Regions from separate parts of the Homo sapiens genome. Here regions 2 and 3 are each linked to region 1. Evidence: fine-mapped expression QTL. A gene starts in region 1. Each other region holds a variant in brackets. All regions are shown on one strand. Distances are between the middles of the regions.

Region 1 (10,155 bases):
CTGAGATCATGCCACTGCACTCCTGCCTGGGTGACAGAGCGAAACTCTGTCTCAAAAAATCATATGTTGAATCCTAATCCCTAGCACCTCAAAATGTGACTGTATTTGGAGTTAAGGCTTTTAAAGAGGTAAATTCATATGGGAGTGCCTAATCCAATATGACCAGAGTCTTTATAAGAAGAGGAGATTAGGACCCAGGCACACACAGAGAGAAGACTGCATGAAGACACAAGGAGAAGATGGCATCTGTGAGTGGAAAAAAGAAGCTCAGAAGAAACCAACCCAGTGACACCTTGATCTCCAACTGTGTCACAGAACTGTGAGACAATACGTTTTTTATAGTTTAAGCCACCTGGCCTGTGGATTACGGCAACCTGAAAAAATGAATATAGATTCTGAAGAGCAGGAGACAGAGACAGGAAGACAGCAGCCACAAAGGCTCAGGGAGGTCCACATTTCAGGTAGGGAGGCTTCCCAGGTGGGGTCCTTAGGGGCACAAGCACGTGGTGAGCACTCTGTCCACATTTGTTGATGTAAATGCTGGTAATAGCATAAATACATTTGGGAGCAAGCAACTCACTTTTGGTGAACACAGGGTGGTCTCTGGCCTGAGCACAGAGGGTGATGTGGGCACATGTCAGAAGGTTTTGCAGAAAGAGTCAGGCGTGTGGGGATGTGGTGCTACTTTCAGCCTCAAATGCTTCCCTCCCTGTGACCAGAAGGTCCCACAGAAAAATGAGCTGGGCACAGGGACAAAGAGGATGTGCTGAGCTTTAGAAAAGACAGAGTAAAGAGATTCATGAAAATGTCAGGTCTACAGCCCACAGCCTGGGTACCAGAAGCCAGAGCTCATGTGTGCATGTGTGTGCATACATTTGTGTGTGTGTGTGTGTGTGTGTGTGTGTGTGTGTGTGTGTTACCTGCTGCTCTGCACTGGGCCATGCTAACACCTAGCTCGGGCCAAGCACAAGGACCCTGTGAAGAGGCTCACAAATGACTCCTGACTCCTGAGGATTTATGTACCATCTGCTGCTGGACTTACTGCAGTCCCTCCAAGCACACCCTCAAGGACTACTGAGCTGGGGTGCCATCAGTCTTGGGAAAAGAGAGTGAGAATTCCCTAAAGCAATGTTTGGCAAACTTGACTACTATTCTTTTCAAAGGCCAAGAAACATTCCTATGGACCCTGCCTTGACTTCAGTTATTGCTGTGGAAATAAAGCAGCACAAACACAAACAGCTAAGCTTATAGTTGCTTTACAAGTGCAAAACAAAAACCAAATGTGTAAATTAAACACAATTGCAAACAGCAATAAAACTCAAACTAACAACATTAGTTTAATGTGACTATGGGTGTTTGTGAAACCGATTTGCCTCTTCTGTGAATATGGAACTGAATGCCATTCAGATTCTCCTGATGGGTGATGGGCTCTCATGCCAAGGGCTGGGAAGTGAGTCAGAGCCTTACAGGAGTCGCATGCTGATAGAGCTTGATGCCTTTACCTCCACAGGAGTCAAACTGCCACGTGTGTCAGACCAGCTCATACTAGACTTTGGTTACAATCCATTGCTTCTCTAACACTTTTAGTCTAGACTTGCTCCAAGCTGGGAGTCTTTGTGTCTCTGTAGAGGACTTACAGAGGTCTTATTCCCTTATTTCTAAGTTATTAAGAATGCAGAATGGGAATTTTCCTGAAGCCTAAGTCTTCTGCTTGGATTCACAAAACATCAGAACTGCATTTACTGTAACATCTTTGACATGGGGAGGAAGCAATTTATAATTAATAGTACCTTACAATAGATGAAATAATGTAATATGTATGATACTGATCAATAATTACATGATGCCTATGAGCAGCATATATATAAAAACACTGAGATATCATAAAAGTAATAAACAAGTTTTAGTTTTAAGTTTTACTTCGAAAAAAATGAAAACTTACAGAAGTTGCAAGAATAGTACAATGAATTCCATATGCTCTTTATCTAGATCTACTGACTTTCCCATTTGCCTCTCTCTCCCTGTGTCTCTCTCTCTTTCCATATATATATTATACAATACATATTATAGATAAACTTGTTATTTTTGCTGAACCATTTAAGAGTAATTTACAGTCATTCTATTAACACCAGATACTTCAGTGTGGATCGCCTAAGAACAAGTGTAAAGGCATTCTCTTTCATAATCATGCTCAGGAAATGTATGTAGTATACAATATAGTCCATTTGCCAGTCATACCAATAATGTCCTTTTTAGCATTTTTTTCCTGATCCCACATCAAGGATCTAGGATCATACGTTTCACTTAGTTGATAAGTCTTTTTAACCTCTTTTACTCTGAACAGTTCTTCAGTCTGTCTTTTGCTCACTGAATGTTCAATAAAAGTAGAAGGCATAGACTGAGATTTTTAGTCTTATACATCAGTGGTCAGTTCTAAGATGTTTTCTTTGTGGTCAGTTTTATAGACATCTGTTTGGTTCCTAGTCCCTCCCTCATTTCAATCACCTCCATCTGGAGCCTTCTAGGAATCTGGGGCCATGTCTTTCCGTTTCCTGGGAGCTGGTCCAGGTTGCTGCATCCAGCCGGCCTGCAGAGCCCTTGGCATCAGCTCACAATCACGTCCCTCTATTGGGGTCACCAATGAGGTTGGTTAGAAGCTATTTCTATCTAGACATCCTGTCAGGCCTATAGCTTCACATTTCTGTACATTTCGGGAAAAACAGTGTAGTCCATACTCCTTCCCCAGTTGTGCAGGGAGAAGACGGTGCTGAAGGTTTCATGTAAACTCTGCCCCAGGGGCCTTAGGCATATCTTTCTGATTGGATGGCTGCATTGTCTGTAACCACGATCTCTCCTCTTTCTTATCCTTTCCCTGCTCTCTCAGTCACAGCTGATAACTGCTTTTCTCTAGAGTGAACTCTCTTTTAGTGGCAATTCAAGCATGTAGCTGACTGCTTTTAGCTGTAAAATGCCTGTGAACAATAGGGAGGAGCAAATATTCAAAATTACTTTTAGAAACCTAGACTGAAAAAGTAACACTTGGAAATCTGCTAAACACCTTAGAAGAGGGGTGTTTCGTTTTGCTTGATGGTCTTAGTTTAGGGATATATTTGCTGTGTGCAAGGTCCATTACAAAACCATGCTGTACTCTTCCATCTCTGACCCAGGTTCTAACAAACAATTGGATAATGAAAGAGGAAAAGCCCCGGCCTGCCAGGTGATAGCAGAATGCACTTGTTGGAGAAAATCTGGATTTCTAAGATTCTTTCAGTGGCAACTGGTAGAATACAGGATTAGTTGAGTAGGCTCTCCATATAGCTTAGTGTCCACAGGAATCTGGATCAACTTTAGAATGGTTTGAACACCCTCTTCTTATGAGGTAAACAAAAAATAGAATTGGATTGTATTATTCTTCCAATTCAGTACAAAGTAAGACCTGATAGAGCCAAGGTATGGACAAAGAAGCCTGTGAAGGATTTTCAAATGGTCCTAAGCTTGTGAATGAGTGAGCAGGCAGCAGAGCTAAGAAAACCATTTGGAAGGCCTTTGCCAATGTAGTCCAGAAGAGCTGAAAGGCCAAGTCTTATCCGGGTCACTGGCTCTGTCTCCCATGAGGGCTGAGTATATTCCCTTGTTCCTGTGTTCATGCAGCAAAGGTTTTACCAGGATGATCAGTTAGATTATATGGGAAGCTGAAAAGTACCAGCAGTGCACACAGCTGTAAAATCAGCACAATGTTACCTGTAGCAGAAAAGTACAAGAAAAGCACTTTCTAGCCTCAAATCTTTGGCACAACCCCAGTTTGGTAAAGACGAAGCAAGTCAAGGGTGGCAGGCTGAATTTCTGCTCTGTTTTGCAATGAGAGTTGGATATTTAGCAATATACAACGACCAAAGCAGGAGTTGCCTCCTCCAAGGGTGGCTGACACATCTAAGGGGTCCCTTCTGCTTTTCACCAACTGGGAGAGTAAATTGAGACCAGCAGGTTGAGGTGGGAGGTTACCAAGGATACCAAATGGCCCTGCCACATCTCTAGCTGCTCTTAGTACAGCCATGTCAAGACGCCATTTTACATGTGTCACCTTCACTTGACAAATGAAATTCAGAGAGGTTGTGCTGCTCCAGGACCCAAGGTTGTTGCCCAGCCAGAGCGGGTCACAGATCCACTTTCAGAACCAGTGCTCCTCTTCAGACATCCTCCCTCAGTCTGCCAAACACTGCCCCAGGCTCCAGGGCTGAGTCAACAGTCTGCAGTCAGAGTCCAAGTTCCCAGTTCAGACATTTGGTGCCCCACAGAACCTTGTACGGGTCCCTGGTCTTCTTTGAGCCTGAATTTACTAATTTGTAAAATGAGGCCTAGGACATTATGTGGATGGGACGTGAGGCTCGTTTGCTCATGTATAAAATTGGTTTCCAAACTCTGGTCTGGAAGCCTCACTTGGTTCTAGTTTGCATTCCTGGGCTGCAGGAGTCCATCTGACCCCAGTTCTAGTCCTCACTTCTTGTCCTTGGCATCATAGCCAAGTACCTTTGTTGCCAACTCACTATCGGGTCCTCAGGCCCTTCCACCAACCCAAATTATAGATGGGGCTGCTTTCTCCAGCCTGGCTGCCTTGATGGTCAGTCCAGTCCCTGCAGGGCCCTGGTCCACAGATGAGTCTCCTAGCTGGAGGATCCCATGGGGTCCAGAGACCTCTGGAAGTGCCTGGGGTTCAGAGATGTCACAGAGCCTTTGCACCCACTGGCCTGGGGTGCCTGAAGAGGATGGTCCCTCTGGGGAATGCCCTGGGGCTCACACTAGTGGGCTGCACCCTCTTTCCATGCCACCCACACCTCCTCACTCCCTTAGAGGGAAGGAGATGAGGGCCCTGTCTCCTCCTCCTCCTACAGGGACCCACTCCCAACCAGGGCCCACCTGCTAGCTGCTGCTACCCCTCACTGGAACTCCACAAAGACCTCTCCTGATAGACACACACAGAATAGACCTAACATGTGCTTTTCTTGCTTGGAGATGGGTTAGGCTCAGACCCTAAGTTTAGAACAGTGGCAAAGAGACCAGGCATTGGCTCAGAGTGACAGGGCTCTGTGGTTGTGTGACATGGGTCTCTTTCATGTGGCTGCTTCTGCTTCCTTATGTATAGTAATAATAGTAGTGTTCACTGACACCCGTGAATCGGGTGCTGGGGCAATGCGTTAATGGGAATGGTGTAACTTGGTCTTCCTAAACACCCCAGAAGGGGTGGGCCCATTTCCCCATTTTACAGGTGCAGGAAACTGAGGCACATGGAGATTACAGAACTGTCCCAGGCCTGACCGCGGCGGGGTTCAGTAGCATCTGGAAAATCACTTTAGCCCAGGCCTGGCTGAGGCACTGTAAATGGGCACTTTTGTTAATAGTTTCCACATATTCTGGGCTGGTCTGTGTGGACCCTCTCAGTTTTCCAAGGGTTAGCACCTCGGACCCCGCCCTCCATTTCAGGGCAGCAGAAGGGGCTTCTCCCCCCTCAGCTGCTTGTTGGCTCCCGAGGGTCCTGTGGAGTGAGCGCAGGAGGCCCACGACCAGCAGGTGAGTCTCAGGCCAGAGGTTCCCTGGACGCGCCCCCACCCCCTGGCTCCCAGATCCCGCCTTCCCTTAGGAATAAGTGCATCTGTGGGCAGAGGACCGCCGGTCGCACTGCAGCTGTGTGTTCTGTGAGTCACCAGCGATCACCTTGCAGAAACTCAGTTTTCTCATCTGGGAAATGGGGCTGTTGAAAGGAGACGCCACAGATCCTGGAGCGAACCGATCGCGCGGCGGCTCCCGCGCCCGGTGCGGGCCTCGGGACCCAGCAGCCCCGGCCCCGCGTGGCAGGCGGCCCAAGGGGCGGGCCGGGGGCGGGCGCGAGCGCGGGCCCGGGGCGGGCTGGCGGCGGCCGGGCCAGGCGGCGGCGCTCTCCCGCGTCACAGCGCCGGGCGGCGGCGGGGAGATGCGGCTGCTGGCACTGGCGGCGGCCGCGCTGCTGGCGCGGGCTCCGGCTCCGGGTAAGCGCGGCGGGGCCAGGCGGGAGCGGGAAGGGTGGGGGCCGGGCGGCCGCGCCGGGGAGGCCGGGGCTCCGGGCCTGGTGGGGAGGCCCTGCCACCTCCGGGCGCGGGCGGGGGGCGGCGCTGTCACTGTCGCCAGCGCGCTCCGGTGGGCTCGCCGAGGGTCTGGCGGGCGCAGCGGCGCCTCCCCAAGGTTCAGAGGACGCCTCCCGTGAGCGCGGTCCCCGTCCCGACCTCGCCTGGGGCTGGGTACTCTCGCAGCAGCCGAGATCTTCCCAGCGGCAGGCCCCGAGGGGAGATGCAGCAGGAGCGCAGCCCAAGTTGGTGGTTCGCTTTCCTTTTTTCCACGGCAGTCAGGACACACAGCTCTTGGCAGATTCCTCGGAGCAGCAACTTCCCTTTCACTCTCTTCGGAGAGTTACTCCGAAGACAAGTCAGGAGCGGCTGGATCTGCCTTGGCCAGGAGGTGGGGAACGGGGACTTGATCGTGGGCCTTTTGAGGTGACCAGGCCTGGTGAGAGGGGCATCCACGGCTGGATGCAGCGACGCCTCTCCACCAGCACCCTGCTTTGAGGACAACTTCTTGGTCCACACTAATGGCTTTCATTCGGGTTTTACTGCTCCCACTTGTAAGTGTCTTAAGAATTTTCCCTCTTTATTCCCCAGAACTCTGTCTGGCTGCCTCAGGGCAGCAGGGGCCGTACTGGCTGGAATAATAGTAATAATACAGGTATCGATGGTCACTTTCCCTGGGTGCCTATCTGGGCCTATCTCATTTAATTACAACACTTCCAAGTAATAATGACTACAACACGTTTATATATCCAAGTATTAAAAAAAAAAAACATGAACTTGGTTAATCTCACCAATAACCTCTGAAGGAGGTGCTATTATTATCCCTATTTTATAGATGAGGAAACTGAGGCTCAGGCCCATGAACGGACTTGCCTTAATTCAGTAGGCTTGTAAGTGGTGGAGCTGGGATTTGAACCCAGTTAGCCTGGCTCTGGGCTCTGTCAATAACCACTAAACTGTGTTGCCATTGTTTTGAAAATTAGGAAACTGATGCTCAGAAGTCATTTTCCAAGAGTGATCTGGCTACCAAGTGTAGAGCTGGCATTTGAGCCAGCATTAATCCATAGATCCCAGTCTGAGGAGGAGGCACTTGGATAACAGTGGGAAGAAATCCATCTACTGTCCCCCAGCTATGAGTGCAGCCAGGTTCCCAGTGAACCTGAAATCCTTGCTGCGGGAAATGTACCTTTTCCCAGTTGTCACTGTCTCGGCTGGAAAAATGATGAGAAGTTTGCCTTGGACTGGTGGGCAGGGCCAGTTCTCGTGGTCTCTGTGGAGTAGCCAGCAGCCAGTGGTCCTTCCTCTCCCAGGCTCCATGACCACCTTCTAATTGCAGGAGCTGTCAGAGTGGGTGTCCCAGAGATTGTCTTTTGCTGGGGATCAAGGGCATTCTCACATTTCCAGAGCCCTCGGGAGCCTTGAGAGCTGGAATTCAGGAGCCTTTAGAGTCTGCCCTGGCTGTGCCCATGGTCAGCCCTGGAGGATGATAAGAGCTCCTGCTTGTGGGACACTCACTGTGTGCCACCCACTTTTCTAAGTGCCTCATTCATGACTCCTCACCACGATCCTGCTGGGAGGGGCTGGCAGACCCATTTTATACATAAGTACAGCTTCTTAACTGCTGTACTTTTCTGCCTCTCCATTTTGGGACTGACCAGGACCCTAGTGGTCACCTGGTCCCATGTCTCATTTTACAGGAAAGAAAACTGACAGACAATATATTTACGATAGCAAATCTGTAGGCTTGAGAGGTGGCTGAGCTGTCTTTGAAGCAAGATGGCCTAGGTTCGAATTCCAGCTCTGCCACTTACTATGTGAGCTTGAACAAGGGCTTAGCCTCTCTGTACCTCAGTCCTCTTGTCTATAAAATGGGAATAAACAGAGTATCAGGATAAATTGAGAAAATACATCTAAAGGGCATAGAGTTTGTACCCGGCAGGTATTAGCCTCTATCATTGGGCAAGGTGATATTTTTATCCTGGATGGAGCTATTTTCAGGTGATAGGCTAATGTGAGTGAATCAGTCCATGGGCTAGGTCTGGCATCACCTCTGCTTAGTGCTCAGTAAATACTGGCTCCTGGTGCCAAAGACTGTTAAGTAATATAACTATTTCTTTCAGAGATTTAGCTGTATGAATTCAGACTATTCTTTTAATAAGAAAGCTCACTGCTGCTGATCAGTACTGACAGTTTGCATTCCTTATAAACTTAGAGGCTCTGGTCTCCCTGAAGTGAGCAGGTGCAGTTTCTTCAGGCAGAGAGGAAGTGGGAGGCACACAGCTACGAGCACATCCCTGGCCTGCTCAGAACCGAGGGACTGTGCCCACCTCTGCATCCCAGATGAGGCTGCTGCCTTGTTCTGTTAGTTGTCCTTACTCCCTCACCTGGAAGTGGCCATCTCCCACTTCACAATGAGTAGGTTGTTCTATTCAGCTACAACGGTGTCCTAGGCTGTTTTCAGAGTGGTGTTAGTCCTTTTCATGACATTATTCAAATATAAGCAAGGGGGTTAGACACCTTAACTTTTATCCACAGGAATTTGAGATTCGTCTACAAACATAACCAGCTACATCGCTTGTGGGATCCAGTGTCAAATGAAAATGTGGGCCTCCTTGTTAAAATGTATTAAAATTTCAAGATAGCAACAGCAGAGATTAAACCATGTTGGGGTGTGAGGACTTCCAACCATGGGGTCCTGTGTGCCTGCAGGTCGTGGGCCCACGAAGCCCACTGTACTCACAGGACAGTGTGCATGTCACTTTCTATTGCTCCCACCTCCCCAGTCTCAGGGCATGCAAACTCTATCTGTATTTTAAGGGTGCTTTTGCATTGGAGCCTATGCTTACTGTGAAAGGCATCCTTTTCCCATTTTTCGGATGAGGAAACTGAAACTCCAGGAGGCTCACACCTAACAGAATCAGGTTTCCGGCCTGGTTCTGTCAGATGCCAGCCCCTGGCTCTCTACCCAGCCCCACCAAGCCACTGCTTCTGTGTCTCATCGTTTCTCTGCAACTACCAGAGAAGGCCTGGGACCATAAACATCCAGTGCTTAGCCCATGTGGTGCCCAGGACTACCAAGTCCCAGAGCATGTGCTTGTTGGAGACTGGGATTTGCTGCAGCAGGAATCCTGTCCCTCTGTTTGTATCAGTCTCTTCCCTATCAGTTTTGTTATATTCCTCCTTCAAAAAGTGGCCTTGGGGAACCTGACTGGGGTAGGGAATGCCTTCTGAGGATCATGTGTTGGCAAGGGTGGCTGTTGGGCCACAGTGGGGTACAGTTCACCAGGATGAACTGACCTTTCCATTTCCAGCCTGTACAGGGTCCCTCTTGCCTCACAACATTTGCAGAGGTGGGGCTCCCTCCTTGGAAATCATTCCTTGTTGCTGCCTTGAACTTTATTTCATTAGCTGCAAGTGAGTCTTTAGCTCAAGCTCACATCCCCAGAGTCCCTTCCCCTGACCCCGAAGTCTAGATCAGGATCTTGCCATGATTTTCTTAAACCCTGCACTTTTCTCTGTGGCATGTGACACTGTAGTTATATTCTCCCATGTCTTTTCCCCAATGAGTGGCTGCCTTACCCACTGGACTGTCCACTGCACAAGGTCAGGAATGTTGTTTTCTTCTTCACAACATGCCTGCTGCATGAGGCTTAAGCTGGAGGAAGCAGGAACTGTGAGTGGAGAGGTACAACGGGGAGGGGGACGATGCGTCTCCCTCCCACCTCAATTCTCCGCAACACAGGGTCACAAAACAAGAAATTAATTTCTTCTTCGGGCCTGAGTGACTTTGGCAATCCTTCCTAGGCCAGGAGAGGGAGGATCTGCCCTGCCTGGCTGCTCCATCATCTACCTGGTGGAGGAGGGGGCGAGTGACACCATCAGGTCCTGCCCCTCTGACAAGCTGGGCATGCATGGACTGTCATTCAGACTGAGATCCAGAGGGAAGAGCCTGGGCTCCCGGGGGCCCTGTACACTGTCTCCTGCCTCTGGACACTGCTGCACCTGCTTCCCCTCGTCCTGTCCTCTGATTGCCATTGGTGTTCCCTCTGCTGAGCCCTAT
Region 2 (10,155 bases), 19 kb before region 1:
GTGTGTGTGTGTTTGTAATGTTGGGGGTGGGGAGGTGTGGTGGGGATGGCAGATGGGGTGTTGGAAACCAATGTCCCAGCCAATGTCCAGCCAGTCTCACTGCACTGCAGGGGGGCATGACTGAATGGACTGCTTCCCCTCTGGCTGCTAAGCCTTGGCCTGGGGCCTTTCTTGGGAATTTTCCTGTGGGAATTTGACATGGCCTGATCCAACCTTCCCAGAAGTTCTCCACCCTATGCATACTTTATTCCAGGAGGGCCAGGGATCCATTCAAGACTTTGGGTGCTGTGCGGGAGAAGGGACAGTTGCTGGCCTCCTCAGGACACTGGGATTATCCATTAAACAACTGCATCATCTCTCTGCAGGACAGGCTGGGAAGAAGCATCTTCAGCCATGCCTTTGAAATAGCTATTCCAATTGTGGGGATTAAAATAAGTCATCCCAGCTCTGCTCAGGAGTTTTCTGTGAACATATTTTCTGCTTTCCAGCCACAGACATCCATTAGTCTTGGATGTGGGCTAAAAGGAACATGGAATCAAGCACAGCACACTTTGACGTCAAGGTGACTCACTGTCAGCCTCTGGGTCCTGGGTTCTCACCCTCACACACTTAGACATCAAGGTGACTCACTGTCGGCCTCTGAGTCCCCGAGTCTCACCCTCCAAGTCAGAGCTGTGCCATGCTGCAGGAAAGCTGGCCCAGTAGAAGACAGGAATGGCTCCTGAGGGCTGTGTCCAGCGTGGCCTGTGGCCAGCCCATTTTGGACATAGAGAGAGAGAAGACCCCTTTCCCTAGAGCTCCCACCATGGCTCTCCAAGAACATACACAGGATGTGGCCAGTGCTGGGATCCTGTGGGATCCTGGGATCCTGGGTCACGTGCATGGCATCCAGCAAGGAGTCTTTCCTCTCAGCTGAAGCTGCCCTTCCAAGGAAGCGTGTGTTGGAAGAAGACACTTCTGCATCCCACAACCTTGTTGAACATTCACAGCCCTGCTGGGCCAGAGCTGAGCAAAATGCAGCAGGCTCCAGGCCAGGTGGGGCTCTGGGGCCTGGAGCACAGCCATGCCATGACTGAGGACCCAGCCCCAGGGACCAGCCCCCTCCTGGTTCCCTGATGAGAGGGAAGGCCTTGGCTATTTGTGTGGGCACTCTGAGGTGAAGGCCAAAACCCGAGACAGCGCCAAACAAACCCACCAAAGGAGCAGCCTGTTATTATGTCTAAAGAAAAACAAAAGCAAAACTCCCTTTCCTATTTGCTTGGGGGAGCTGAAGAAGAGTCCTCCGGATTACATTTCCCTGTGGCTGAGCTGAGCCTTCTGTGGTCCACTGACTCACTTCTTTTAAAATAGTTACAAGAAGCAACAGAAAATAAACCCAAAAGATAGTACTTCCCTACCCCACTTCTCAGTTTGTCTGATAGCTTTTGGCACTTTCTCTGCAGCCCAAGCACACAATGAGGTCATCCCTAAGCCCTGAGGACTGACCTTCACTGGGAAAAATTCCCACTCTGAACACCACCAACCCCACTCCATGCAAACCTGCTGCGCAGCATCCGGGCAGCTTCCCACTTCTCCCCTGCCCTCGGGTGTTAAATCTGATAATAGGATAACTTTGGGAGGGTGGCAAGGCACCTGCCCCCTTAGAGGGGCCCCACTTTCGGTGTGGAGAGAAGAGCAGGATCATTGCCCGTTTGCAACACCTTTACACAGTGGCTCTAGCCACAGAAATGCCATGATTAAGACCGAAGCACCACCCCTTGGCCAAATGGACAGATTATTTCTGGACTCCCATGGACCCCAGAATGAATGATGTGATTCTCCCCACAGCCCAGATTGGGGCGCAAGCCAAGCTCTGGAATTAGAAGTGAAGAGAGACATGGCCTCTCTGCTTCCTGCTGTGGCTGTGGCCACTTTATTTCCTGTTAGCCTCCTCAGCTGGGAAAAACAGAGGCTGGGAAGAGTAGGTTTTGGAAGAAAAGTTAAGAGTAGAAAATATTCCAGGCCTCTTGGATGAGGTTTAGGGCTCGCATGCAATGTGTGCAATGAGCTGGCCAGGCGTCAGAGCTCCAAGAAAGTGCTGCGTTGGTCCTTTTGGGGGTTTGCACACCAGCCCTGCTGGCTGCAGCAGTGAGGCGCAGAGGTTCCTGGCAGGGCTGGAAAACCCACTGGAGAGTGGCAGGGGGATGGGTGGGAGCCCTTTGTGGGTGGTCTCAGCTGAACATCTGCATGGAGCAAGCAGAGCGGCTGGGGCAGAGGCTCTTCCCATAGACGGAAACAGCCAGAGGCCATGTGAGTGAGGAGGACAATCGCTCACCATCTGAGGGGCTTCACTCCAAACTAGCCCCAGGGAAGTAGCCCATAGGAAACATCAGAGCAACCTGGCCATGCAGCCCTGCCCCCAGGCGTGAGATGGAAGCCACTTCTCTCCCAGCTTTCCCACCCAAGGTTCATCAAACCCCTCTGAAGTGCCAAGCTCCCTATCTCTAAGGAGGGTTCACAGTGTATAATTTTTGAGAGGATTAGGAAGAACGTATATAGATTCTGGGTAAAGAAAGACCCGACTCAAGGGACTTTGGAAAACATCGTTTGGATCCCAAATTGTAAAGCTTTTGCCTTTACAAAAGCAACCGTATATAAACATTGCAATCTAGTAAGTTGTTTCCTATGGGGTAAGAATGGGAACCATCCTCCCAAGTTGTCCTGGGAAAACCACAGGGCTCACCTGGCCCCCAGGTTTCCCTGACTGGGCCAGGAAGAAGCACAGAGCACAGATGCTGGTTAACGAACTAGCTCACTAGAACATATTTAAATATTACAAGGGAAAATCAAAGTCCATTGAATTACCATGCCCTGTAACAAATTGCCCCAGAAACTAGTGTGTAAAACACCTTTTCTTATGCTCACAGTTTTCTTATGCTCACGGTGGGTGGGGAATTCCAGGAGGGCTTGTCTCTGCCTTGTGATGTCTTGGACCCCAGCTGAAAGACTTGAAGTCTGGGAAGCAAAATTATCTGAAGGTTCCTTCACTCACACATATGGTGGTTGATTGAGACCTTTGCTGGGGCTGCTGCCTGGAACACATCTATGTGGCCTCTCCATGTGGCCTAGGCTTCCTCACAACATAGTGGCTGAGTCCAAAGGAGAAGGGAGACAGAACCAGGAGGAAGTCACATCTTTTATGATCTGGCACTGACAGTCACAAAACATCACTCCTGTGCATTCTGTTGATTGAGGCAGTTACAAAATCCACCCCAGTTCAGGAAGAAGGACGCTGTCGTGTTATCAGAAGAGCATGTGGGTTGTGATATAGATTGGTTTGGCCATCTTTGGAAAATTTGGTCTCACACAGCCCCACCTAATCTTTTTCCTCTTTCTTGAGGTCAACACTGTTTTCTCTTGGGTGTGATTATTTTCAGATCTCCTCTGTGCCTTTTGATACATAGACAATATAGAATTTGGTCAGTGCTTTTGAGGGAGTATGTTTGATTTTTACATAGGTGGGGTCATCTATCTATTCCTTGTATCTTGTGTTTTCATTTAACATGAATTCACTTATCAGTATGTATAGATCTCTTTCTTTTTATCGTGGTGTAGTATTCCACAGTTTGATTATGTTGTAGTTTCTTTATTTTGATGGATCTTAGGAAAGTCTCCTGTCTTTATTTCTATTATACACAATGCTGCAATAAATATTTCTCTAGGTGCTATTTTATGCACATATCATGTAATGTGGCTGTTCCCTAGGAAAGAGATGATAGTAAACTGCTTAGGAAGTGCCTGCCCACTTTTAATTCTAATGGGTACCACCAAACTTTTTGAGAAAGTTAAGGTACACTGTTCCAACAGAGAATAAAAGTGTTCATTTCCTTACGTCCTCACCAGCACTGGGTATTGTCCATCTTTTTAACTCTTACCTATCTCATGGGTGAAAAGTGCTATACTGTATACTACACATTTTTAAGTTGTAGCTCCCTTATTACAGTAGGACTCAACATCTTCTCATATATTTATCATCCCTCTGCATTTCTTCCCCTGGAAACTGCTTGCTCATTTGCTTTTTTTTCCAGTTCCACTGAAAAGCAGAGGAATGCAAATTGAAACAGTGAGTTTTTTAAAGCAGTGAAATTAGAAAAGATGACAAAGTTTCTCAATGCTTGCGAAGACTAATATTGTTTAAGTTGAGAAAAAGCACCTTGTAATTACAAATGTTAACATATTTTCTTTCTACACATTTTTCATTAAAGCGTAAGCTCTGAACCATTATGAAAATATTCTTAATTGTTTTACATGAAGTGAGACCAAAGTTGATTCAAAAAAATAGCGAATATAATTTTTCAGCATAATTTGTTGGCTGAGTCTCCTTTCCTCCCAGACTT[G/C]CTGTTTACTTTGCCGCTTAACAATTCTCCATGATGTCATCTCTCTCTGAACTGCCTTCCATCCCCCAATGACCTACTTATTTTCTGTGCTGGCTGCCCCCTCTTGTTTTTGTAAGGCAAGTCTTTGTATTTATTTGTTAAAAAAGGGTGCACTTACACTATTTCCTCTTTTAGCCAGGGGACGTAGTCTTCTGTTTAGGTCAGGCGTGACTTTCATGGCTCAGTAGAGCACCGTGGTGTCTTCCTCCACACAGTGGCCTCACATTCTAGAGAGGAGGGTATTCCTCGGTGCTGGGTGTGTGGGGGATGTTGATGTTGCTTGTGGAATATTGGGATTATTTTCAATCCATCACCTATCTGAACTGTTTAGTATTTGGGATTCAAAGGAATAGAGTTGATGAGACTGACCAAGGGTGGGAAGAGATTAGCCACAGAGGGAAGTGGTAAGAAGCTTGTTGGAGGAAATGAGTGAAGTGCCAGCGTGTTGCAGAGCAGAGAGATGGCAGGTGAACATTTTATCAGGCTGATTGAGGCTGAAGCGTGGTTTGTGCAAATGGAGAAGGAAGAGGCAACTCCCAGAGTCCTAGTGGGAGAGAACCAACCACCCTGGAACTGCAGAGATCCAGGGAGCACAGAGGAGGCAGCTCCCAGAGGGAGTAACGCCTTTTTCAGCCCAACGTGTTCATCAGCTATTTACTCATTATTTCCTGAGTGCTTGTTAATATGTAAAACATTGATCTAGACACTAGAGATATAATGAGGTGGATGGAACGAAGGAAGTCCCTACCTGCCTAAGCTTACATCTAAGGAGGAGAAGACAGATACAGGTAAACCCATGAGATACACACACAGACATTATATACAGCCTAGGGTGGTAAATGCTATCATGGAAAAATAAAGCAGGGTAAGGTGACAGAGAGTTGTAGGGCCAAAGAAAGCTCTTTTCCTGGGGGTGCCAGGCAGGCTCCTCTGACCAGGTGATGTTTCAGAGGAGACCGGAAGGAGAGAGAGCCACACAGGAACCTAGGGGAAAGCCTGGAACAGGCACAAGGAAGAGCAAGTGCGAGAGCCCAGAGCCCGTGAGGGGAGGATGCCGGGCATGTCCGGGAGCAGTGAAGTGTCTGGAGTCACAGGAACTGAGCAAGGGAGTGAGTAGAGGAGAGGGGAGGGGAGGGGTGGGGTGGGGTTGTGGAGGGTTGAGGAGCTAAACAGGGTCAGCGTGGGGACGTAAGATGGGGGAGAGAAGGAGAGATTTTCCACACTGGGAAGCAGGGTCATTTTATGTTGGCTGCTGACTGTATGTATGTGAGCCTATGTATGGTTAATTAATCTGGCATGAATTTGTGTGCATGTATGTGTGTGTGGTTAAGTAAATATGTGTGTGAATTTGTATGTGTGAGCATGTTATGTGTCTATGTGAACACACGTACATATGTTTATGTTACTGTGTGTGCCATATGTGTTCCAGCGTATATGTGTGTCTGAGTGATCATGTATGCGTTTCTTTGTGTGTGAGTGACATAGTATGGACATGTGTCCCCTTCAAATCTCATGTTGAAATTTGATATCCAATGTGAGAGGTGGGCGTAGAGGGAGGTGTTTGGGTGACGGGGACAAATCCCTCATGAAGGGCTCAGTGCCACCCTCGTGGTAAAGAGTTCTCACTCTTAGTTCTGTGAGAACTGAGTGTTGAAAAGAGCCTGTCACTTCCTCCACTCTTTCTTCCTTCCTCTCTTACCCATGTGATCTAAACACACCTGCTCCCCTTCCCCATTTGCTGAGAATGGAAGCTTCCTAAGGCCCTCACCAGAAGCAGATGCTGGCACTATGCTTTGTGTACAGGCTGCAGAAACATGAGCCCAATACACTTCTTTCTTTTATAAATTACCCAACCTCAGGTATCCCTTTGTAAGCCACACAGATGGACTAAGACAGCGGTTCCATGCATGCTTAAGTGTATACAAGTGTCTCTGTGTTTATGTGTTTGTGTTTTTATGTGTGTCTAAGGAGTTAAGAGTATGTGTGTTTTGTGTTTCTGTGTGTCCATGATAATACACAAGACAGAAAAGGAGTTCCCATGGGGAAATGAGAACATGTTGGGAAGCCTCTCCTGGTATCCAGCCTCAGCCTCTGCCCTCGCCATGGGTCACAGAACAGACCAGTGCCATCGATGAGGTCACACAGTAGAGCTAGGATCTTAGCGACCATGGGGAGCTCAGTGTCCACTCTGGCTGGGGCCAGCTGGAGGCCTTCAGTACAGCCCCAGCCAACTCTCACTGAACAGCTGGAGCACCGACACCCTGGGCACTCATTTCAAATCATGAAATGCTACTTCACAGATCACAGGGGAGAACAGTCACCCACCGATGGGACCACCCTCAGCTTGACCAGCCCTGAGTCCACTGAGGAGAGTGTGGAAGTGTTCTGGCCAGGTAGGTGAAAAGAAAGGCCTGGAAGGTCAGCCAGCTGTGCTCCCTGGGAAGGAAGCCCTGATGGGAAGGGACAGTGCCAGGTTGCCTCCTGATACTGTTACCAAATGGTTGTGTTGACCATAAACATAGATGTGGAGGGAAAGGAAATTGATATTTATGGGACACTTGGTGTGACTGAGGCTGTTATGAGTATATAAGGTGTTTTCAGGGGATATGAGAATGAAAATGTAAAATGTTTATAATTATGTATTTATTTTAATGTGTATTTGAGAAAACAACACGTCCATCCTGTGATTTCAGCAGTGAAATAAAAAATTCCTTTATAACAAAATGATGAAAGTTAATCTAGAACATCAATTTGAAGACCGCGGGGACGTGTCTGTGGGCAGCACCTAAGTGTCACACCAGCTCTGGGGGCCCAATGGCTCCACCACTCATTCAAACTCCATGCCTCTCTTTCCTACTCTGTTGAATGGGAATCCTAACAATATAATTTCTTAGGGTTGTTTTGAATATTAAACTTGGCAAGCACTTCCATGGCAAGAGGGACACAGTAAGTGTTGAAGGAGATAGTGAGATGCCCCCTCGGGAAGGTGAAGACAGGTCACAAATGTTGAAGAGGATGGTGGGTCTGGGTGGCTTGGCCAAGGCACTTTGCATGTGTTGTTTTTTAAATGGGCTTTACTGAGGTGTCTTTTATGCACACAGACTTCAGCAATTTTAAATGCACAATTTAAAGAAGTTTGACACATGTACATTTGTGGAACCACCAACACAGTCATGATAAAGAAGATTTTTCAAAACCCCTAAAAGTCCCCTTGTGCCTTATTATGACCAGTCTCCTCTCACCCCGTCCCCAGCTCTGGGCAACCACTGAGCTGTTCTCTGTTGCTAAAAATTTGCCTTTTCTAGAATGTCATCTGAATAAAATCATATACGACATGGACTCTTTTTTTTTTTTGTTCACATTCTCTTATGACTACATGGCCTTTTTAATTGGCTTCTTTTATTTAGCATAATGCATTCAGGATTCATCCGTATTGTTGCACGTCTCAGTGGTTCATGGATTTAACAGGTTGCATCATATGGATACACCTCAGTCAGCTTACCTATTCCCCAGTTGATGGTCTTTTGCTTGGTGATTACTCTAATACATTATTTGATCCTTATCATCATATCCCTAATGTGTATATAACTCTGTTATTCACCATTTAATGGTCTTTCTCAGTTGAGTCAAGGATTTGGTGATTGCATTCATACATTATTCAATCATTACCACACCCTATGAAGCAGGCATTATCACCATCTTCATTTTTTCAGGAAATGGGCAGAGGGGGCGGTGTTTGCTCAAGAGCTCCCAGAGCCTGTACCCTTTCAGAGTCTGCGGCTCCTGAAGGTAGATGTGGCATTGATCCCTTAAAGGGCACTGATGACAATGTCCTTCTGCTTCTCAGGGACTATACAGAGAGAAGGGTCGTCCCCACGGCCGGGGCCTGCCATTCCCCGGGAGGAGGGCCTCTACTTCGCTGCCAGGGACCGGGGGATGCGGGACTGGAGCAGCTCCCCATCCTCAGAGTCCTCCGAGTACCAGTCCTACTCCCAGTACCAGTCGTGCTGCTCCTGCATGTGCGATGAGGACAATGCTGCTCCGCAGAGTGTGTGTGCCTTCTACACGCACGTGCAGACTGTGCGGGGTGTGGCTGTGGCCTGGGAGACGGAGGCCGGCTTCGAGCCGGTCACCAGGAAGCCCCGCATCCATGAAGCCCAGTTCATCAAGAGGCAGAGGTGGAACGGCTCCTCCTTCGAAATGGCTTCCAACACCGATATGCGCTGGGACCTGGAAGCCTGCAAGAGCAACTGCAGCCCCGAGCCCGAGGACATAGACCTGCTGGAGTGCTGCCTGCAGGAGCTGCGGGAGCCGCCGGACTGGCTGGTCACCACCAACTACGGGGTGCGCTGCGTGGCCTGCTGCAGGGTCTTGCCCTCCCTGGACGCTCTGCTGGAGCACGCCCAGCATGGCATCCGGGAGGGCTTCAGCTGTCAGATCTTTTTTGAGGAGATGCTGGAGAGAAGGCGGGCTCAGGGCCAAGCACATGACCAACAGCTGGAGGAGGAGCAGAGTCCTTCAGACAACAGCGAATGTTCCCGGCCCCAGGGTGAGGTGCTCTCAGCACAGCAGCAGGAGAAGCAGTGAGCCAGAGGGGAGATACCCAACCCTGCCCTCACCTCCAGGGCCTGGGACTGCTCCTTCCCCAGCCAGCAGTATCAGAGCCACTAGGGCAGGGAGAGAGGACCAGGGTCAGGGGGAAGGAAAGGCATGGAGTGTAGAGCAAGGAGGGCCAGGAGACTGGAAGGAACCCCCTTCCTGCCCTAGGCACAGCATCTCCACCAGAGTCCATTTCAAAACCCAAACGAGAGGGCTTTGAGTGTTTCTGATGGCAGGCACAACATCTGAAACCCACAAACGCATGGCCAGAGGGATTTCTATTTTTGCCGGTGGATCAGGCAGGTCCACACTTGCTAAGTATATGTGGGTCACAGGACAGCCAACTGCAAATTACTCTCCAGCCCTATTTTTTTCACTATTACAAATCTGTCATATGCCCTAGTTCTATGTCTTATGTTATTGGGATTAAACTTGAATAACACAAAATTGAATGCAGTGACTAACTGAGTGAACCATGCTGTCATATTGGACACATGGGAAGTTGCCATTTCCATAGGTTACAAACTAGCAGAAACACCTGGAGACAGGCAGCTTCTCAAGGTAGAGCAGGAGGCTGGGGATGTCCTTCTGACCTATGAGTTCATCTATGTCAACTATACATTTTTAAATGGTGCCATGAAATTCATCTTCATCCTTCTCCCTGTCTCAGGGGGCTGTGTTCATTCAAGAAAAATTAATTGTGGACCACTGTGTGTTTGAGATGCTGATGGAAGACATAGTCCAGCCTCTGTTGCTTCCAGTGAGAGACAGTTAGAATGGGCAATTGCAAGGCAAGGGGATGAATGACATCAAGGAGGTTTGGGGAGCCTAGATGAGGGGCCCCAAGTTCAAGCTGTTTGATCAGGATAAAGAACTTTCCAAAAAAGATGATGCTCCCGGGGGCTTAAAGGAAAAGCTAGACCAGGGTTCCTCAACCAGCACTGTTGACCCTGCATGCTAATTATTTGCCGCGGGGGCTGTCCTGTCTGCTGCAAGATGTTTACTGGCATCCCTGGCCTCTACCCATCCGATTCCAGCAGCATCCCCTGCCCCACAGTTGTGAAAATCACAAATGTCTTCAGAAATTAACAGATGTTCCCTAGGGACAAAATCACCCCTGGTTGAGAATCACTGAGCTAGA
Region 3 (10,155 bases), 27 kb after region 1:
AGAAGGGAGAGTGAACTGAATACATTGAATTTGAATTTGGGACAAAGGTGTTGGCTCATCTTTGTTTTACTTAAGGATCTTTTCTTCTGCATACTTCACATCACCATCCTCTTCCAGCCCCTTTACATTTTCCTCTCCTATTAAAACCTGTGTAAGATGCTGCCTGAGGGACCTGGAGCAGGGTGGTACTTGCTCTCTCCTGGTGCAAATTAGCAAGGCCTACTTGCCAGGGATCAGGCTCCTTAACTTCTTCCGCTTCCTTTCAGCTTGAGGGAACTTAAGAATCATCTTCTGTTTAAGAAGAATCACCTTCTGGTTAGGAATCATCTTTGGACTTTCTGCTTCCATTCTGTAGGAAACTAAACTCCCAGAGGCCATAAAATAAATCATGACAGACACAAAGCCTGCAACTCCAAGGCCAGAATTTTGTGGAGAAGTTAGCCTCTGCAGCCAGGTGTGCTGGCGCAACCCCACTGCTTCTGAGGCTCCAGGGGAAGGACTGTTGCTGGGCAGGGTGGGACCCCCTGACCCTGGCCCCTCTCCTAGCTTTCCGGAAAGTAACAATGTCATAGTCCTGGTAAGGTGTACTTACCCCACTGTATCACGTTCATTTCATTCATTCATTAAGAGTAACTATGACGGCCGGGCACCGTGGCTAACGCCTGTAATCCCAGCACTTTGGGAGGCCGAGGTGGGTGGATCGCGAGGTCAGGAGATCAAGACTATCCTGGCTAACATGGTGAAACCCCATCTCTACTAAAAATACAAAAAATTAGCTGGGCGTTATGGCAGGCACCTGTGGTCCCAGCTACTTGGGAGGCTGAGGCAGGAGGACGGCGTGAACCCGGGAAGAGGAGCTTGCAGCGAACCTAGATCTTGCCACTGCACTCCAGCCTGGGCGACGAAGCAAGACTCCATCTCAAAAAAAAAAAAAAAAAAAAAAAGAGTAACTATGACTTGAACTATGGGCCAAGAAGGATTCTAGAAAGTGAAGAAAACAGACACAGATAATGAACAAGGTAGAATAAGGCATGGTCTGGTGCACAGTGATGGATTTTAAAGCCACACATTCCATAGAGAGAGGAAGGGTGTGAAACATTAGATCACCACTGGAGGAAGGCTTCAATTCAAATTGTCTCCAGTTTCCAAGACAGGCAGTTGACTCCTTGGGAAGACACGTCCATCCTTACACATGTTCTGCTCTTTTAAAAATCATTGTTTCTTGAAAGCTGTGTTCTGCACATCATTTTCTACATTGAGACATGCTATTAAAAGGTGCTCTTTCAGGGTCCTTTTGAAACGGGAAAAGTTCCCTTGTCCCCCTACCAGTGCATGCGATAGGGGTGTGGCTGGCTTCTTTGGTGCCCTGCTGCTCAAACCTTTAGGGAAGCATACAGATGGGCAGGAGCTGTGGGGCTCCGACCCCACGGCAGTGTCCAGGGGTGAATGTTTATAACTCCTGAAGCCCCAGTGGGCATGTGTTATGGGGTGCTCTCTTATTTTGCCGACTATAGGCTGCCTGTAGCTCAATTAAGACCCTCCACCTAGTCTCAAGGACAGAGGGCTTTCTGTATCCCGGGTTCGTGCCTTGGTGTACTGGAAGAATCAGATCACATGTGCGCTTGGAGAATATCTTATTCTCCAAGTTTTATTGAGTACAAGTAGCTCCCAGTCAATGGGGGAGGTAGAAGGGAGACGGTTTTCCCCTGGAGTTGGGCTGCTCTGTGGCCCCAGCTCTCTTCTGACTGCCTCGGCCAAACTCTGCCTGGTGCCTGGTCCCACTGGTCGATGTCCTGCCTACATACCAGTGCCTGTCTGTGTGCTCTTCTGCTGGCATAATCTGCTCCATGTTCTCTGGACTACCAAGCCGCTTGCGTCTTCTTCCGGTGACGTGCTCCTCTCGATGTCTGACTGCGTCTGTCTCTGCCTTGCTAGGTTCTCAACTTTTTATAGGCCCAGGATGGGGGCGTGGCAGGCCAGAGTGGTCTTGGGAAATGCAATATTTGGGCAGGAAATGCCTGTCCTCACCTAGGTCCGTGGAGGTGGAGCCCTAGCCAGGGACCACGCCCTCCTCTACCCAGCACGCCCCTTCCCCTTTCCATATTGTTCAAAGGGACCATACTCTTCTCTTCCCAGCACTCCCGTATCACTTTGTAGATAACACTTCTGTGGCAGGATCACTCCTTATCCTTATTACTCTTGTTTTCCCTAGATTAAATAGAAGAGGCATTGGTTTAGTTTTGAGTTCTAAACCCTCTCCTGGATTGGACAGGACACTGAGGCCCAGGGCCTGGTTTCTCACAGCAGGACTCTCCTCTCCCACATCTCCTTGTACTCAGTCTTTCTTCTAGGAGTGCACATGACAGAGACTCTCCAAGTAGGGTCCTCGGGCCTGGAGCCTCAGAATTTCCTGAGAGGTGAACTCCCTCTTCAGGCAGAGTCCCAAACCCTCTCAGAAACTCAGGGGCAATGCCTGGGAGTCTTCGTTTTAATAAGAGCCCAGTTGATTCTTCTGCACAGTAAAGTTTAAAAATATGGCTTTAGAGCACTAAGGAAGGCAGCACCTGCTAAGGACAAGATCTGTAGAGTCTGGGAGAAGGCTTCAGCTACCCTGGCCAGGGTAGGCACGGAAAGGGAAGGCATGTCTCCTGAGCCCAGCTGCCTGCCTTCCCTGCATCCTGGCTCCTGCTCCCTCCTGCCTCGTTCTTCCTCTTGGCCCGCCAGGGCCCCACCACTTTCCTCTCCATCGAATCCTGCGTTCTGGAAGGCTTTCCGTGTCAGAAATGTGCACCTGACTTTGGATATAGCCTAGAGTTGCAATTTAAGCTTTGTTAATTGTAAGATTCTTTGTTAAAGGAATTAGGGGCGCCAGTGGGAGAGAATTTCAGGAAAAATGGAGCCTTCCCAGGACCTCTCGGAATTTTTGGCCATCACTTCCGTGGGTGAGTAAGGTCAGTCTAGACAAAGCATGTCAGCGTCCTTGGTGAATGGGGGACCCCGAAAGAACCAGAGGCCCCTTGGCACCCAGAGGGCATTGTCACAGGGTCTTGGTGTGAACTCACCTGTGAAACATGCCCTCCCCAGGGAAGTTGGCAGGGTGTTCTTTCCAAGGCAGGAATTAGGGCTCTCGGTTTTCACACCTCTCTGAGTGATGGTTTCCCCCCAGGTCCCATCAAAGGGGACTTGACTGAGGCTCTTTCTTTCCAGCCTGCTTCCTCTAGACATGCAGTTGATAGAATCGGTTTGTCTCAGTACCTCTGGGCTGCATTCTTCCTGACTGTTTGATCCTGTGGCCACTTTCTTCAACAGAGGGGCAGTGACGTGATGGATTTCACAACTTGTCCCTTATTAGATTTCATCCTATTCTGTGCTCCTGGGGAGGCCCCAGAGTGGCCTGTAGCTCTGTCATCTGGGCCACTGCCTCCCCGGAAACTCTCATGGGCTCTGCCCATTGGGTGCTAGGGTCCCAAGGCAATGACAAAGCAGTCAGTAGGTCAGCTGACAATTTAGCTTCTGAGCACTCATCACCCCTCCCTCCACTGTGAGACCTGACCCATCAGATATAAAAACCCACTTTAGTTCCGATAACAGCTGTACTGAGATAGGTGGCTTGGCACTGAGATCAAATTGGGCTTCCTTCTACTTCCCTGAACAGTTGTCCTGCCTGTTCGCCTTTCCCCACCCCCCACCCCAGCATGGGGACTACATGCCTGTGCACTGTGGGAGCAGGAGGTCAGGGTCCTTGCACTGCCCTTGTCATGGTCTCCCTGGACACAGGACGGATGGTAGAGGAGTGTGTGCAGGAGTGGTCACAGGTGGGGCTCCGTGAGAGGCAGGGCTGGTGTCACTCCCAGCAGCTGGGGTGATGAGACTGTCCCAAGGGGCCCCACAGCATTTGCCCCCATGCCAGCTATTTGCTGGGAGACCAGTCTCAGAGCACAGGGCAGGACAGAGTCTACTTGGAAAAAGTTCTTTACCACATTCCTATCACCCAGAGGGGGGCTGTGGTCAGAAGCTCACCTGGATCAGGAGCTTTTCCTTGTCCACCAGGGGTGAGGGAGGTGGTGAATGCAGATGAGAGGGCAGAGAGGGGCAGCATCATTCCAGTCCTGCACCTTCCTGGGAAGGGATGGAAGTCTCATTTCTCCTCCCTATCATGAAAACCTGAGCACAGAGCAGCAGAGTCCACCATCAGGACCCTATAGGACCATTGTCTGGCTCACCAGCTGACTGTCATGCACTTGCTTTCCTCTTTGGGGGATTGGGCTGGGCACTCCTTTAATCATGAGCAGCTGTCAGGAGGGCAGGACCTCCATTCCTTTGAGCTGGTGCATAGGAAGAGTCAGCAAATTGGTACAAGAGGCTGTTGTCATCTTCTTTCCAATTGTCTGGAAGTCCAGCTGGATCCCAAGGTGAGCCCAGTACGGCAGAATGGGATAGATTGATTGACTCTTGCTTAAGGCTCCAGCCTTCTGATTGCTGAACTCATTGGAAACTGTTACAAAAATGCTCTTCCATCAGGAGATTTGCATTTTATTTCCACAAGTCTTTGAGCAACATTAGTAATCTGTGGTTGGAACATTTGCCACTTGTTCCTTAGTCTTGCCAAATTTTTTCTCAAAGCATTCCATCCTCTTCAAGCCCATCTACCCTGCTGGGGCCTCTTCCACTCCACACTTGAAGGTTGACCAAGGTGAATTTATATTAGCTGCTCACAGCTGTGCTGAGGAGGGCAGAGTATTTGTGGAGTCAGGAGACCTGCTGATTGTCCACTACACAGCCCTTGCTGTTGGCCTGGCTGCATCCCACAGCTCTGTTTCCTCATAGTCTGTGGACTCAGACCCCTGGCTTGACAATATATCAAATTCACTTTGAGATAGCACAGGATTAGCAGCTGCAACAAGATACTTATGGGAGAA[C/A]CTTGGGAAAATTCCCGAAGATCTGGCAGGGTCCATGTAAAAATTTTTCTTTCTTGTAGGAACAAGTAAGATTAGGACTGGTGTTTCTAATAATCAGATGCCAAAGTTGCTGCACCGTCCTGTGAAATATCTGCACTGCGGGGGAGTGAGGAGCATCCAGTGATTCCTTGCATAGGGTTAGTTTAGAATCCCAGTTTGTTAGCTCTTTCAACACATGTGTCCATAAATAGATTAGGGAGAGCTTGTTGCTTTCTATCCTAAATAAGGGAAAGGGAACTGTAATTGGATTAAATCAAGGACCCACAATTTCTGACCCTGAAAGTTGCATAAAAAATGACCCGAAGGCACCTGTTGGTTAGAATGGCAGCAGCTCATTCAAGGTGTAGAGATTGAAGAGTCACCCCCTGAGGCAAAGGACTGACAACAAAGGGCCATTCTGAGGTTGGCGGGGGTGGAGGTTAGAGCAGTGAATAAAACAAGTGAAAGTCCCTGTACTTAGACAGCTAGTGTGGATATGGGCTCAGTAGGTCTCAGGCACTGTTCTGAGCACTTCACACACATGAACCCCTTTAACCCCTGCATCTACTCTGACATGGGCATTTCTCATCATCCCCATTTTACAAATGGGTAAAATAAGGCACAGGAAAATTAAGTGACTTATCCAAGGACATAAAACTAGCAAGTGGCAATTGAGTCTTTCAACCCTGTGAGCATGTGTTTGCCAAATTTTAAAAGGCATACATTTCACCCAGGGGATTTGGGCTTGAAAGCAGATTCTGATTCAGTAGATCCGGCATGGGGCCTGCCATTCTGCATTTCTGAGGAGCTCCCGGGTGACACTGACATTGCTGGCCCGTGGACCACATGTGGGGTGGTAAGGGTCCACACCATGATGGGTATCCTTGGCCTCCTGGAAACCAAGCTCCTTGAAGATATATGTGTATTGTTCATCTCCGTGTTGTCTTCATCAGGACCTTCTTATCCTTATCTAGGCTTGATTAGCTGAAGCCATGGAAATCCAGCCAAGCTTTTTCAGGAGAGAAGTGGGCACAGTCTAAGGGTGCAAAGCTCTTGGAATGCAAAGAGAGTAAATACAACATGCCAGGCCTTGTGGGGCCCAGAGTGCCATCAAGCTTTGGCCTCTCATCTTCCCTCTGCTATGCAGGTTCTAGGCTCCGCTCCATTCTGCTCACTTGTTTTCCAACATGGCCACCCACAAAATCCACTGGCTCTTTCAATCTCAGGGCTCACAATAACCACATGCACTCTGTTTCTTATTTTAAGTGTTTGAAGGGGGAATCTGGCAGTCAGTAGATTACAGGGGCTATGGGTATTGAGCAGGTCAAGGAGGTTGGGTGTGATGGACAAATTGTCTGATGTATCTTAGATCACATGCAAGGTCAGATATTCACTAAGAGCTCCTTCCTGGAGGTCCAGGTTGCTTCCTTTGGGAGGAAGTCAGAAAGAAATATATAATTCATATATTTTACCAAGCACCTATCAGCTGCCAGGCAATGTGCCCAGTGATAGGAATACAGAGGTAGAAGATATAGCCACTACTTTTTAAATAATTTAAGTTCTAATGGCAAAGGAGTTCTGTGATCAAGGCAACCTCTCAGCAGAGCAAAGCCCTCCTCCTGAGAACAATTAGGAAAACTGAAAATAAAGTCTATCAGCACTTCTGCTTTCTGATTCACATATCTACATTTCATAAATATATTTGTATTATATAATTACATATATATGTATATATACATATATTACATGTGTATATACACATATATATTACATATGTATATATACACATATATATTACATATGTATATATACATATATATTACATATGTATATATATACATATATAACATATATAATTATATATATGTGCATATATATCCAACTATCTTAATTGTTATCTGAAGGACTAGATAGGTAGTTAGATCACAGAGAAAAGCAGCAAAGTGAGCCCAATTGCTGGAGACGTTTAACTCTAAGAAACTCACTCATACTTAAGCAGTGCTAGTTGAGAGAAGCTATGGAGAAAGTGACAACCAGTATGTTTAGGAGGTGAGTTAGTTTTTGGCAGTTCTAACAGTGAGATAAAAATTGGGAGGTTGTGGTAAATACCCCAGGATTTTTGCTGGGGAACCCTGAAGGACCGAATGAACCCTGAGTAAGGGCAAACCAGAAATAGAGCGGATTCTATAAAAACTGAAAGCCTCTCAACAGTTCAAACCCTGATTGGATTAAAGTGACCATCCCCCTACTCTAACTTCCTATCAGGGAACCAAAATTTTATCTAGAGTCACCAAGATTTTCTATATACAATGTCTGGCATTCAATTAGAAAAAAGTTATCAGGCATTCCAACAGACAAGATCTAAAGCAAAAACAGATAACAGAAAGGAGTCTATGGGAAGTGCAAATATGAAAGTTTATCAGGCATAGACATTAAAATAATATGATTGATATGGTCGCAGAATTAGATGACAACCTAGAGAAATTCATTAGAGAACTGAGATATCTACAAAAGAATTAAACAAATAATATAGAACTGAATAAAAAGAATAAATGCAATTAAGAACTTAATAGAAGGGTTGTACAGAAGGTTAAACACAGATGAAGAGAAAATTAATGATTTGGAAGATATGTCAATAGGAAATATCCAGTGCAAGGCCCAGAGAGACAAAAGGAAGGAAAATTCAGAATTGAGATCATGACAATAATAATACAAAAGTTTGTGGGAGAGGCAGTAAATCGAATTTAAGTTCTAGGCCATCTTTGCCGTATTTCTTGTCTCTTTTGTTGATTCTATCTCCATTCAATTCTGGTCCTAGATTCTCTTGTCTAGAGCTCTTCGTTGTGGTAACCCCTGAGCACATGTAGCTGGGTAAATTAATTAAACTTAAATAAAAGTAAAAATTCAGTTATTTGGTAAGACTGGCTGCATTTAAAGTATTCAGTAGCCACATGTGTCCAGTGGCTGCTGTATTGGACAGTGCAGATATAGAACATTTCAATAACTTCAGAAGGTTCTATTGAACAATAATCTCATTCCGTGATATTTTACATTTTTCATCAGTCTGTTTTCTAGATCTTTACCTATGATGATGTTACCCCTGTACATGGAAACTTTCCGTGGGCCCAGACTCCTTTAATGTGATGTTCAAAGTTTCACACAGTGTAACTCAATTCTGTTTCCCTGCCTGTTGAAAGCAGGCAAAATGAATTCAGTGATCTACCATTACCTGAAAGAAGACAAAATGTTCTCACAATTAGATGCCTGTGGCTCTGTGGGTCTGTCTTGCATGGAGAATGGTGCTCAGAGCACTAACCTTGAGTCATCTGATGACTTCAGGTTCCTCTATCCAGGAATACTGGGACAAGTACACTACATTTTAGAAAGATTCCCACTAAAATGGTAAAATAAATCATGTATTAATTATTGGGTTTGCCACTGGGAACTTCTTATTTTTCAAGTCTATGGGGCAAGTGGGGCTTTTACTGAACTGCATCCTGAGCTTGCCATTTACTGGCTTTTAAACATGGATGACTTAACTTCAACCTCTCCTGTGCCCCTTGTTTCCCAACTGTTAGGTAAAGTCCTTGCACCCCTCCCTAACATGTGAGTTTTGACAACTAAATGTGGTTTTGCAAATGTAGAAATTGCTTTGTAAATGTAAGTGCCATGTGTACCATGTGGCATTATTTTTTCATACTGTGCTGTTTCTTTTTTGTCTTTCAGTCATTTCCCTCAAAGCTTCTGAAGAGTCATCCTTTGAGAAAACAAAAGAGACTTGGGCATTTTTTGAAGGTAAAGCTTGTATATTTCTTTTTTTTATTGCTCTATAGTTGCTTTTTCTTTTTCTTTTTTTTTAAATTATACTTTAAGTTCTAGGGTACATGTGCACAACGTGCAGGTTTGTTACATATATATGCATGTGCCACATTGGTGTGCTGCACCCATTAACTCGTCATTTACATTAGGTATATCTCCTAATGCCATCCCTCCCCCTTTCCCCCACCCCACGATAAGATGCAGCCTCACTTTTAGACAATAGGAAGGAAACAGAATATAAAGAAAGGACCCTAACTTCTTAGTTTTTAAGTTGTTTTCTTGGTCTAAACTTACTCAAAGTGAGATGGAAATCCCTGACAGTATCAGCCCACAGTTTTGAAAGAGTGGAAGTTAAAGCACCAGTCCACATAATTTTTGTTTGTTTTGTTTTGCTCCAGAATTCCTACTCCCAGGTGATATTAGGGACGAATCTTCAAGTGATATAAAAATGATAAGTACCTCTACTGTGACTACATTTTATTTCAGGTTGCTTAAGGAGTTTGGGGTTCTAGAAACAGTTTGCAATCCTTAACCAAGTAATTTTCAACCCATGCTAGAATCACTCATGGAATGTTAAGAACATGAATGCCTGGACCACATCTCTAGAGATTCTGATTTAATTGGAAGTTGTTAAAAGCTCCCCAGATGATTGCAGCATGCAGCCAGGCTGAGAACCATGGCCTTGGAACAGTGGTTCCCAAAGTGTGATTGCAGACCGGCAGCATATGCATCACCTGGGAGCTTGTTCCAAATGCACATGGCTGTGCCCTGCCCTAGCTTATAGAATCAGAAATTCTAGGGATGGTGCCCAAGAAATCCGGGGTTTAACAAGACATCCAGGCAATTCTGATGCACATTCAGGTTTGGGCCTTAGGGCAGGGGTTCTCAACAGTGGGTGACTTTTGCTACTCCAGGGTACAGTTGCCAATGTCTGCATGTATCTTTGGTTGTCACAGCTTTTGGGGGTACTCCTGGCATCTAGTGGCAGGGGCCAAGGATGATGCCAATCCTACAATACACAGGATAGTCCCCATGACAAAGAATTTTGGCTCCAAGTATCCAGAGTGCTGAGGTTGGAAAACCCTGTCTTGGAGTAAGGAAAGTTCGGAGAAATTATTATCATAAAGTGGGTGAGGATTATGATCATAAGCAATTAAAGAATGCACTTTGTGAGTTCTCTGGCAGAGCTTTGGATCAGTGAAAGGCTGATTAATGTTCAAAGGTGGTCAGGAACTTTGTAAAGATTATGTCTGGTGATGGTACAACATTTATTGATGAGGAATGATCTAGCCAAAAGTCTCTAAGGAGAGGCACATGTCTTGAGGCCTTACTGTCACCCTTTGTTAACCCATTGTATGATCTGGCAGAAGGAGGGCCATCCTTAGGGAGCAAGTACTTG

Which allele goes with the higher level. Positions count from the first base shown, and alleles are read on the strand shown. Sizes are in standard deviations (SD) of each study's normalised expression.
In carriers of allele C in region 2, the expression in NK cells of the gene that starts at base 5,929 in region 1 tends to be higher than with G alone (large effect, 2.5 SD a copy in Schmiedel 2018).
With allele C in place of A in region 3, the expression in tibial nerve of the gene that starts at base 5,929 in region 1 is lower (small effect, 0.29 SD a copy in GTEx).

The links. PIP is the estimated chance that this variant, and not a neighbour inherited with it, causes the effect.
Region 2: its variant is fine-mapped to the expression of VSTM4 in NK cells (Schmiedel 2018, PIP 0.95).
Region 3: its variant is fine-mapped to the expression of VSTM4 in tibial nerve (GTEx, PIP 0.96).

What each region holds. Positions count from the first base shown.
Region 1 is chr10:49,111,296-49,121,450 of GRCh38, reverse strand. VSTM4 (V-set and transmembrane domain containing 4) reads left to right here and starts at 5,929. Exons shown (of 8, transcript NM_001031746.5): 1 at 5,929-6,020. The coding sequence starts at 5,966. LOC124902545 (a long non-coding RNA gene) reads left to right here. Exons shown (of 2, transcript XR_007062371.1): 1 at 1-248; 2 at 343-1,335.
Region 2 is chr10:49,130,460-49,140,614 of GRCh38, reverse strand. FAM170B (family with sequence similarity 170 member B) reads left to right here and starts at 6,594. Exons shown (of 2, transcript NM_001164484.2): 1 at 6,594-6,808; 2 at 8,263-9,461. The coding sequence starts at 6,697. The coding sequence ends at 9,002. It overlaps FAM170B-AS1 (FAM170B antisense RNA 1), which reads right to left. Exons shown (of 6, transcript NR_038973.1): 2 at 4,534-4,959. The variant G/C (reference allele first, on the strand shown) is at 4,377.
Region 3 is chr10:49,084,532-49,094,686 of GRCh38, reverse strand. It overlaps VSTM4 (V-set and transmembrane domain containing 4), which reads left to right. Exons shown (of 8, transcript NM_001031746.5): 3 at 8,664-8,732. Among named protein-coding and RNA genes, the nearest start is that of VSTM4, 26 kb to the left of the region's middle. The variant C/A (reference allele first, on the strand shown) is at 4,920.